2 separate regions of the Homo sapiens genome follow, and region 1 is linked to region 2. The links come from fine-mapping of genetic effects on gene expression. A gene starts in region 2. The other region holds a variant in brackets. All regions are shown on one strand. Distances are between the middles of the regions.

What was found. PIP is the estimated chance that this variant, and not a neighbour inherited with it, causes the effect.
Region 1: its variant is the best candidate, but not a certain one, in a credible set for the expression of EXOSC6 in sun-exposed skin (GTEx, PIP 0.67).

What each region holds. Positions count from the first base shown.
Region 1 is chr16:70,092,292-70,097,667 of GRCh38, reverse strand. No RefSeq gene overlaps it. Among named protein-coding and RNA genes, the nearest start is that of PDPR, 19 kb to the left of the region's middle. The variant A/G (reference allele first, on the strand shown) is at 2,187.
Region 2 is chr16:70,248,799-70,254,174 of GRCh38, reverse strand. It overlaps EXOSC6 (exosome component 6), which reads left to right and starts at 2,235. Exons shown (of 1, transcript NM_058219.3): 1 at 2,235-5,376. The coding sequence starts at 2,275. The coding sequence ends at 3,093. It overlaps AARS1 (alanyl-tRNA synthetase 1), which reads left to right. Exons shown (of 21, transcript NM_001605.3): 18 at 137-256; 19 at 375-461; 20 at 794-907; 21 at 1,269-1,877. The coding sequence ends at 1,454. RefSeq lists enhancers at 694-1,194, 1,829-2,018, 2,059-2,108 and silencers at 2,489-2,578, 2,709-3,028.

The sequences.
Region 1 (5,376 bases), 160 kb after region 2:
TTGTTTGTTTTTTTGTTTTTTTTTTTGAGACGGAGTCTTGCTCTGTCGCCCAGGCTGGAGTGCAGTGGCGGGATCTCGGCTCACTGCAAGCTCCGCCTCCCGGGTTCACGCCATTCTCCTGCCTCAGCCTCCCAAGTAGCTGGGACTACAGGCGCCCGCCACTACGCCCGGCTAATTTTTTGTATTTTTAGTAGAGACGGGGTTTCACCGTTTTAGCCGGGATGGTCTCGATCTCCTGACCTCGTGATCCGCCCGCCTCGGCCTCCCAAAGTGCTGGGATTACAGGCGTGAGCCACCGCGCCCGGCCTGTAATACTGTTAATGTAACATAATATAATATAGGCCACTGACATGCTCAGGCCAATGGAGTTTTAGAAGATACAATATGAACAGAGGATTTAAATGTGCCTGGGTAGTTTGGCCTGTATTCCTGCACCCCTGCCATTCCCCATGAGAACATGGTAGTACAAAGAAAAGAGACATGTGGAGCAGACCTGAACTTAACCCTCAACCTGTAGCCTGAAGCAAAGCCATCTCTAATAACCCATGGGCAAGAAAAACAAGCCTCAAGTTAAGCCCATGAAAGTTTGAGGGTGTCTGTTATGAAGAAAAAATGACTAATATATCTATCAAACAAATAAAATAAAAATATCAAAGCCTTTAAATTAGAACCTGTAACAGCTATGATCTAAAATTAGTGAATTATATTGGAAAGCACAGAGCACTACTGTACCTTTCATGAAGAAATGACATAATCCATGGAGACACGAAAGTGCAAATCTGGACACCAGTGCTTGCTTTTCATCTCTTTTGCTATCTTGATTTGCAACTGACTATAAATGGGTCTTATTTTTGCATTCATTCATTCATTTAGTTTTGAGATAGAGTCTTGTTCTGTTGCCAGGCTGAAGGGCAGTGGCACCATTATGGCTCAATACAGCATCCACCTCTTGAGCTTAACTGATCCTCCTGCCTCAGCCTCCCTAGTAGCTGAGACTAAAGGTATGTGCCATGATAGCTGGTTAATTTTTTAAAATTTTATTGTACAGACCGGGTCTCGCTATGTTGCCTAGGCTGATCTCAACTTCTGGTCTCAAGTGATCTTCCTGCCTCACCTGCCCAAAGTGCTGGGACTGCAGGCATGAGCCAGTATGCCCAGCTTTTTCCTAGGTTTAGTTTCTCTACGCAGAAAGAAAAGATGACAGAATAGGAATGCCGTAAAAACAAGGTTATGATGTTAGGTCTTTGAGATTCGTGGAACCAAATCGCTATGAAGAATTGTTAAGCATAATTGTGACAACTAATTTCAGAAATTTAGAAGGGTGTTTAGAATCCAAGAACACAGTGGTGATTTAGAGGAAGAGAAGAGAGAGTACGAAATATAAAATACAAAGGAGTATTTTATACTACCCTGGGAATGGTGGGTGCATCAATAATGTCAGAATAAATGAACTCGAGATAGTAAATAAAAATAATAAATAAATAAAAAGAAAACACTATGCTTCAGCACTCAGTCATGTGATAAAGAACCAATGAACAGAAATCTCAAGGAACGAAAACAGATGCGGGTGCTGATTCGGGTTTGGTTCTCACACTGCACCATTCTCATTATGTCCCAATTAAACCACTTCATCAGATATAGTACATCTATTTCCACAAAACTTTAAGTGCAGACAGGCTCACTTGTCTCTAATCCTAGAAGATGAATAGCATGAGGAATAACACCCAGAATTACTAAAATAAGATAAAATTGAGGATTTTTTTTCTTCCTCTTTGGTAATAATTAGTGAAATAATGCTCTGAGATGATCCCAAGAAATTAGCCAACAAGTATATATTGAATAATGATGATGAACTCAAAATTGTGCTAGGCATTGTTGCAGGATACAAAGACAACATTCTATCTGGTCTCTAATCTCAAGTTGTTTACAATACAGTTATACAGTTAAAATAGCGAAATCAAACAAGCAAGAGGAGGGACTTGAGATAGGCCTAAAGAATTAGAAGAGTGGTCTCCAAAAAGGAGTGGAGTGATTCCTCAAGGAAGAAGTTACATGATCCCTTGGGGGTCAGGAAGAAAATAACAGAGCTTCTGTTTTTAAAAAAGCTTATCCTTTAATTTATGTTTTAACGTATTTTTATAATGCATATAACATGGGTGTAACTAATATTTTATGAGTATGTATCT[A/G]CTGGGGGAATGGTTACTGATTTTTCAAATGATAGGAAGAACATGACCAAGATAGAGGAAAAAAACTTCTTATCATCATTAAGATTCCTACCTCTACCTGCATTCTTCAAACCAGGGGCAAAGTGCTGGCTCCTAGCCTGTGGAGGCATCAAATTAGAAGCTGAGCTATGTCACATTATCAGCTACTCCTTATTCTGGAGATAGAAGTCTGGGCTTCAAAAAGAAGGATCTCTTACATCAAGTGTTTACTCATTGGAAATAAAACTGTCCTCTTACTATGGAAAACTGTAAGAAAAAAAGTCATGAAAAGTATAATAAATAGCTGCTAATTTAATGACCAAATATGAGAGAAGTGATTCCTGACATTGCATATATTAGTATCAATAAGTAAACTATTATAAATGGAAGAATGAGAAAATGAAGAGATTTAGCACATCCCCATCCCAATGCATCAGTGACTAAAACAGAGAAGGAACTTGGGTAATGCTGTATAAATGATACAGCAAAGGCAGTAAAGGGAAAAGCACCAAGTACTTGGAGACACCTGCTTGACTTCAATAAAGAACATGATGAGTGTATCAGGAAATGGTTAAAAAACAAAACAAAACAAAACAAAAAACCTCACAAAAAACAGAAAACAAAAAAGAACCCTGCCACTTTTCTATAGTAGTTAGCAATAGAAGTGTGTGACTTTAGGTACATCACTTAACTTCTCTAAACCCCTAACAACAGGCTTTGAACTAGAGTGGGAATCCATGAACAGGCTTTGGGAGTCTGAGATGTCTTGAAATTGAATGCAAGCATTTGTGTGTATGTATATTTTTCTGAGAAGAATATCCACAACAGCTATCACCATCTCAAAAAGATCCACGAGACAAGAAAAAATTAAGAAATACTGGTCAAACATTGGTTGCGGTTCTTTCCAGCTTTATGAGTCCATAAAATCTGAGATGTGGAATTTAAAAATGTACTTATTGAATTTCAAGTTTTTTTAATGTAGATAATTTGTATATTATGATGGTTACTACTGTTTCACCTTAATCTCTCCTAGTCAAAGTCACAACAAACAGGTTTCAGAATAAACTACTGAAAAGCTTGAGTCTGAATGTTCTCAAATCAACTACCGCATTCACTTAGGAGGAAGGTTTTTACAGAAAGTCTTGGAACTATGATTTCCCCAAGGTGAATAGGCTGAGTTAATGAGTCTGGCAGGAGAAATTAAAGGATTCATAAAGCTATCTTGGAAGGTGTCCCAGTTTCTGAAACAGAAATGCTTGGGAGTTGGATGTTGTCTAAAATATGGAACATTCTACAGTTTCCACTGAAGCTGAACTACATCAGATCACATAAAGGAATAGGGTCCTTTTTCTAAGATACCTGGTACTAAATTAAGTGACAACCGACTTTGTTTTTGAATCCCTCAGGAGAAAACAAACAAAAGATGCCAACAGTATCAGTGCTTTTACAGCCTTAGAAAAATTTGAAGTCACGCGATAACCTAATGCCTCCTTTCAATTGGAGACACTCTGCTGCAGTATTAAGTCAAGTCTTCTGGGAGTTTATTCATTAAGAACCCAGTAACTTCCCATCACACGAACACTTCATTTATTAACCTTGTCCAAAGCCCCAGTGACAATGAAGATAATGTAGCTGGTCTCTAACAAAATAAACCCAATCTTTTACCCCCGGGAAACTCTCCTGAGCAAGTCTAAATGCAATCTCAATCCTCAGGTTTAGAACTGCTTTCCTCTTAGTGCCTTATTCTGGCTCTATCAGAATTTATTTTTCTTATTTTACCCAGGGATAGTGGTTGAGTATTGTTTTTCCAAAAGGACAGTGATCAGCACAGGCTTTACGCCTTCCAACAATGTTCTGATTCACTAAAGAGTTGTAGCTGCTTTTATTTAAGTCTTTAACATTCAACTACCTTTTCAAAAAGGAGTTACTGTACAGGTCCAACGGGAGATTTTGAGATTTTTTTTTTTTTTTTTTTTCTTAAAAAGACATGAGATACAGAAGCTGGCTCTCAAGTGCATATCTAATCATCATACAAGGCTGAATGTGGAGTTTTTAGGGGGAAAGGAGGACTTGATATTTTAAAGAAGGAAGAAAGCACCACTAACCCTATGAGATGAGTATGGCAATAAAGTCAGTCAGAGAAAGTTTCATGGAGGGTACATTTGAATTAAGTCTTATAGGCGGTTGTGGTTTGGTTAAGGATGCTGTGTGCAGGTTGAGGCAGATGAGAGGTAGGCTGTGAAAGGTGGAGCACTAGGCTGTGGGTGGCATTGAAAAGGCACATTCTGTGCCGATGGCTGAGAAAGTGAGGGACCCCATGACAATCACTCCTAGGCTTATTCATTTGGCATCTCCTAATACGTGCTAGGACAACTACAAGTCTTTAGTAAAAATCCAACATTGGTCCAATAATGGTTTCTCATAGTTCAAATTAAGATGTCATGCTAAACACAGTGTCATAATTTGATTTACTTTTATTACTTGTGTGCTTCCCAAGTGGACGGTGGGATAACAGTTGTCAAATATTATATAGTTACTCCTATAGGAACACGTTAAGTTTTAAAGATAGACGGGGCAAGACCCTCACAGACAAATTAGAGCCCATTTATCCCTGGTTCTTAAAAGGTCTCACATAAATATAGAACAGTGAGTGGGCTATGTTGACGTTAAAACTTGTCTTGTACCTTTAAAATGAAAAATCTCCTCAAAGCCCTTTAATTCTAATAAAATAAAAGGGTATACGTATTTTACAGTGGGAATTAGCAGAATGACTCAGAGAGCATACTTACGCATAGGTATAAATATACTGACAGGACTTTTAGCTTTGTCAAGTACTAATTATGTCATCTTCAGTGAGGTTATATCCCTATTCTGAAAATATGAAAACACACAGCAATCGCTAATTACTCAAAACCACTGCTTTGGACCTAATGGTTGACCTCCCTCCATCTCCCAAAAAAGACTGAGTAACTCCTGACTCCCTGACAGAAAGATCCATCTCTCTAGAGAAGATGCTCTGCCCCAAACTTTACTTTGAGAAGTCAAATTATATCTTAGTTTTAAGAAAACTCTAACACTAGTTAAACTGACCAAGTGGAAACACTCAAATTAGTATAATTTCTCATCTTCTATGCCCAAAGCAGGAAATAAAAAATAACAAATAAGAATATAG
Region 2 (5,376 bases):
GACTGGTCTCAAAGCTTTCCTTGCTTTCCTTTCCAGGACACTAGTCAGGGAGGACTTGGGTTCGGGTGGGGTGGGCTGGACCCTGACATCCCAGCAAGTTGTGGCCCAGATTGAGATGGTCGTCTATTGGTTCCAGGCCCTGGCCACTGCAGTCATCCCCCAGTGGCAGAAGGATGAATTGCGGGAGACTCTCAAATCCCTAAAGAAGGTCATGGATGACTTGGACCGAGCCAGCAAAGCCGATGTCCAGAAACGAGTGAGTCCTGGCAGCACCAGTGGCCAGAGTGTTTCCTAGGCAAAGGCTGGCAGAACAGCCAGGGGTTCGGGGCCTGGGCTTTTGGTCTGAGCTGCTGTTCTGGACTTTTTTCTTGCAGGTGTTAGAGAAGACGAAGCAGTTCATCGACAGCAACCCCAACCAGCCTCTTGTCATCCTGGAGATGGAGAGCGGCGCCTCAGCCAAGGCAACCCAGGGGCCAGGGTCCCCTCCCCTAGGGCTCATCAGCTCTCTGGTGGCTGACATGTGGCCTCTGTGGCTCTGAGCGAAGTGGTTGCCTAAGGGCCCACGGTCTGGGATTGAGATTGGGAGGAGCAGCAGCTCCCTGCATGTGGGAGGCATACCTGGGCCAGGGTAGGGGCAGGGCCCGGCGCTGGGGTCCTCCCCACAGGCCCTGGGCACAGCCCCTGCTCTGGGAAGGGGTAGGGGTGGGTGGCAGGCCTTCTGAGGGCTGCAAATGCTCACACTAGTGAGGGTCCCTGCTCCAGCACCGTGGCCTGAGCCAGGTCCTCCCCACAGGCCCTGAATGAAGCCTTGAAGCTCTTCAAGATGCACTCCCCTCAGACTTCTGCCATGCTCTTCACGGTGGACAATGAGGCTGGCAAGATCACGTGCCTGTGTCAAGTTCCCCAGGTCAGCACCACCTCGCACCAGTGGGAAGTGTTAGGTCTTAAGGTTGTTGGCTGAGGCCTGTGTGTGTACAGCCTGCATTCGAAACAGCCTTTCTGCCCACCGGTTGGTTACCTTTGCCAGTACCCCTTACCCAGGCCTTCTTATTGGTGAAGACATCTGGTTGATACCTGGCTTTGCCACTCTGTCCTGTCCTGGCAGTGGCCATGGCCGCCCCCTGTACCAGCCGTAAAGTCTGTCTCGGCCTCCAGCAGTATCACCCAGGGCAAGGAGTGGGTGATGGCTCCTCCATCCTTTCTTTCCCTGCATTCCTCCCTCAATCCCATCTTCTGTGCTGACTCCCCCTTCCCTTCCTGTCTTCTAGAATGCAGCCAATCGGGGCTTAAAAGCCAGCGAGTGGGTGCAGCAGGTGTCAGGCTTGATGGACGGTAAAGGTGGTGGCAAGGATGTGTCTGCACAGGCCACAGGCAAGAACGTTGGCTGCCTGCAGGAGGCGCTGCAGCTGGCCACTTCCTTCGCCCAGCTGCGCCTCGGGGATGTAAAGAACTGAGTGGGGAAGGAGGAGGCTCCCACTGGATCCATCCGTCCAGCCAAGAGCTCTTCATCTGCTACAAGAACATTTGAATCTTGGGACCTTTAAAGAGCCCCTCCTAACCCAGCAGTAACTGGAACACACTTGGGAGCAGTCCTATGTCTCAGTGCCCCTTAAATTTCTGCCCTGAGCCCTCCACGTCAGTGCCATCGGTCTAGAACCACTAACCCCGCATTGCTGTTGATCGTCACGCTCGCATCTATAGATAACGGCTCTCCAGACCTGAGCTTTCCGCGTCAGCAAGTAGGAATCGTTTTTGCTGCAGAGAATAAAAGGACCACGTGCAATACTTAATGCCGCATGATCTCTATCCCTCTTCCCAATAGGGGCTGGCTCTTTTGACAGCCTTTGGCGTCTGTAGAATAAATGCTGTGGCTCCTGCTGGCTGCTGTGGTGTTCACCTAGTCCAGCCCCAGAACCCAAAATTTTGGGAACAGCCCCTAGGGCTGCCTCAAACGTCTGTGGAGGTGGAGGCCAAATAGGTGGGGTGACTTGGAGCAAGGCGTTCATAATTCAGTAGATGAGGGGTGGAGGTAGTTGGAAGCAGAGAAGCCTTTCTTGGAGCTGCTCTCCCCCCTCCCTTCCAGCAAGATGGATGGATCCGGCTACCCTGCACAACTGGGACCGGGCCGTTCTCCCTCCGGGCCTCCAGGGGCGCTGTAGTGCCTCCCGCCGCTCTCTCGACAGCCCATGCGCAGCCGCGCGTCTTTAAACAACGGAAGAACCAGTGGATGCGGCAGGGCGTTGGGCGGAAGGGGTTCGCACGCCAAGAACCGCCATGCCTGGGGATCACCGCCGCATCCGCGGCCCTGAAGAATCGCAGCCGCCGCAGCTGTACGCGGCCGACGAGGAGGAGGCGCCCGGCACCCGCGACCCAACGCGGCTACGGCCCGTGTACGCGCGCGCCGGGCTGCTGAGCCAGGCCAAGGGCTCGGCCTACCTGGAGGCGGGAGGCACCAAGGTGCTGTGTGCCGTGTCGGGCCCGCGACAGGCCGAGGGCGGCGAGCGCGGCGGCGGCCCGGCCGGAGCAGGCGGCGAGGCCCCGGCCGCGCTGCGCGGTCGCCTGCTCTGCGACTTCCGCCGCGCACCCTTCGCGGGCCGCCGGCGCCGCGCTCCCCCGGGCGGCTGCGAGGAGCGTGAGCTGGCGCTGGCGCTGCAGGAGGCGCTGGAGCCGGCTGTGCGCCTGGGCCGCTACCCGCGCGCGCAGCTCGAGGTGTCGGCGCTGCTGCTGGAGGACGGTGGCTCGGCCCTGGCCGCCGCGCTCACCGCCGCCGCGCTCGCCCTGGCCGACGCGGGCGTGGAGATGTACGACCTGGTGGTGGGCTGCGGCCTCAGCCTCGCGCCGGGGCCCGCGCCCACCTGGCTCCTGGACCCCACGCGGCTCGAGGAAGAGCGCGCCGCCGCCGGCCTCACCGTGGCGCTCATGCCTGTGCTGAATCAGGTGGCCGGGCTGCTGGGCAGCGGCGAGGGCGGCCTGACAGAGAGCTGGGCGGAGGCCGTACGCCTGGGCCTCGAGGGCTGCCAGCGCCTCTACCCCGTGCTGCAGCAGAGCCTGGTGCGGGCCGCCCGCCGCAGGGGCGCCGCCGCCCAGCCCTGAACCAGAAGCCTGAGCAACTACGGACGCAAGCCGAGGACCGTGCTGCCGCCGTCCACGAAAAGACCCGCGCCATCGGCCTCCAGTTTGCGTCGAGAATTCCTGGAAGGGCCCTGATATGACTGTGGTTGGACTGACCTGACTGCCAGATGGTGGGACTTGGTCTGGAGCAGGGACTACTTGGAATGATAAAGGCAAAACTCAACAGCCCCTGGAGCTGCGCTTGTGGTGGAGCTGGACCCTGAAATTACCTGGACCTTTTTTTTAGAGACAGGGTTTCTTTCTGCAGTCTCAAACTCCTAGCCTTGATTGATCCTCCTGCCTTGGCCTCCCAAAGTGCTGGGACTACAGGTGCATGCAACCACACCTGGCTAATTTTCTTTTCTTCTTTCTTTCTTTTTTTTTTTTTTTTTTTTTTGATGGAGTCTTGTTCTGTTGCCCAGGCTGGAGTGCAATGGTGCAATCTTGGCTCACTGCAACCTCTGCCTCCTGGGTTCAATCCATTCTCCTGCCTCAGCCTCCCAAGTAGCTGGGATTACAGGCACATGCCTCCATACCGGGCTAATTTTTGTATTTTTAGTAGAGATGGGGTTTCGCCATGTGGGCCAGGCTGTTCTCGAATGCCTGACCTCAGGTGATCCACCCGCCTTGGCCTCCCAAAGTGCTGGAATTACAGGTGTGAGCCACTGTGCCCAGCTGAGTAAATTTCTTGATTGCACAGAATGTACGGTGATATTGGCGGACTTAAGGACATCGAATTGTTTATCAGGAATAAAGTATTATGTGTGTTTTCTGCGGCCCTGGATAATGCTGTAGCATTCAGGGTCGATTGAGTAAAAAAAATGTAGAGATGGTTTCCTGTTTGTTTTTGCTTCTAGTTTTCATTCATTTGCTATTTATTCTCTTCTGGCTTTGCTTGTGTATGCATATATATAAAACCATTATTATTATTATTATTATTTTTAGTTTCTAGTGGAAGGCTTTTATTTGGTTCTGTGAATAGTCATTTTGTTTCCTAAGAACTTCCAGCAAGTTGTATTCATTCCATTCATCTAGAATTCCTAGGCTGCCTTTGTCGGGCCTGCAGGTATTAATGGAGAATAGCAGCTTTTTATTTTTTTATATTTATTTTTTGAGACAGAGTCTCACTCTGTTGCCCAGGCTGGAGTGCAATGGCGCGATCTCAGCTCACTGCAACCTCCGCCTCAGAGGTTCAAGTGATTCTCCTGCCTCAGCCTCTGGAATAGCTGGGACTACAGGCACCTGCCACCACACCCAGCTAACTTTTTGTATTTTTAGAGAAGATGGGGTTTCATCATGTTGGCCAAGCTGGTCTCAAACTCCTGATCTCAGTGATCCATCTGCCTCAGCCTCCCAAAGTTATAAGATTTTTTTCCTCTGGTTTTTAGTAAATGTTTTTTTTGAGATTGCTTAGCACCAGAATGATTTGCAAATTTGAAAATAGGAACTCCACTAGGAATGCCGGATAGAAGAGTGCTTCACATTTGTAGAGGGAGACAAGAACTAAATATCACGACGTCTTTCTGAGCCTTTTGGTTTGCTAACGTGCCCCAAATTCTTATTCCAAACGGTATAAGATAATTATGTGTAAATGAATACCAGCTCTACTTAGTTTTATTTCATATTTGTGTATCTGAATATATTAAAATATCTTTTTTTTTTTTTTGATGCGGAGTCTTGCTCTGTTGTCCAGCCTGGAGTGCAGTGGCATGATCTCGGCTCACTGCAACCTCTGCCTCCCAGGTTCAAGCGATTCTCCTGCCTCAGCCTCCTAAGTAGCTGGTATTACAGGAGTGTGCCATTAGCCTGGCTAATTTTTGTATTTTTAGTAGAGATGGATTTTCATTGTGTTGGCCATGCTGGTCTTGAACTCCTGACCTCAAGTGATCCTCCTGCCTTGGCCTCCCAAAGTACTGTGATTACTATCATGAGCCACCACACCTGGCCTAAAAGATCATTGATTTAGTTTTGAGTAAGATTTTAAGTGATTAAATTATGGTATTGTTGTGTCTGGAATATCTGATATTAGGGTTTTTTTTTTTTTTTTTTACAGTTTTTGATATGCTTTATTTTGGGTATGTAGTTTACAAAATATAAAGGAAATATAAGGAGTGTTCTCTTTTTTTTTTAAATAAAAAGTGTATTTTTAACTGGGCATGGTGGCTCACTCCTGTAACCCCAGCACTGTGGGAGGCTGAGGCTGGTGAATCGCCTGAGTCCAGGAGTTTGAGACCAGCCTGGGCAACAAGGTGAAACCCTGTTTCT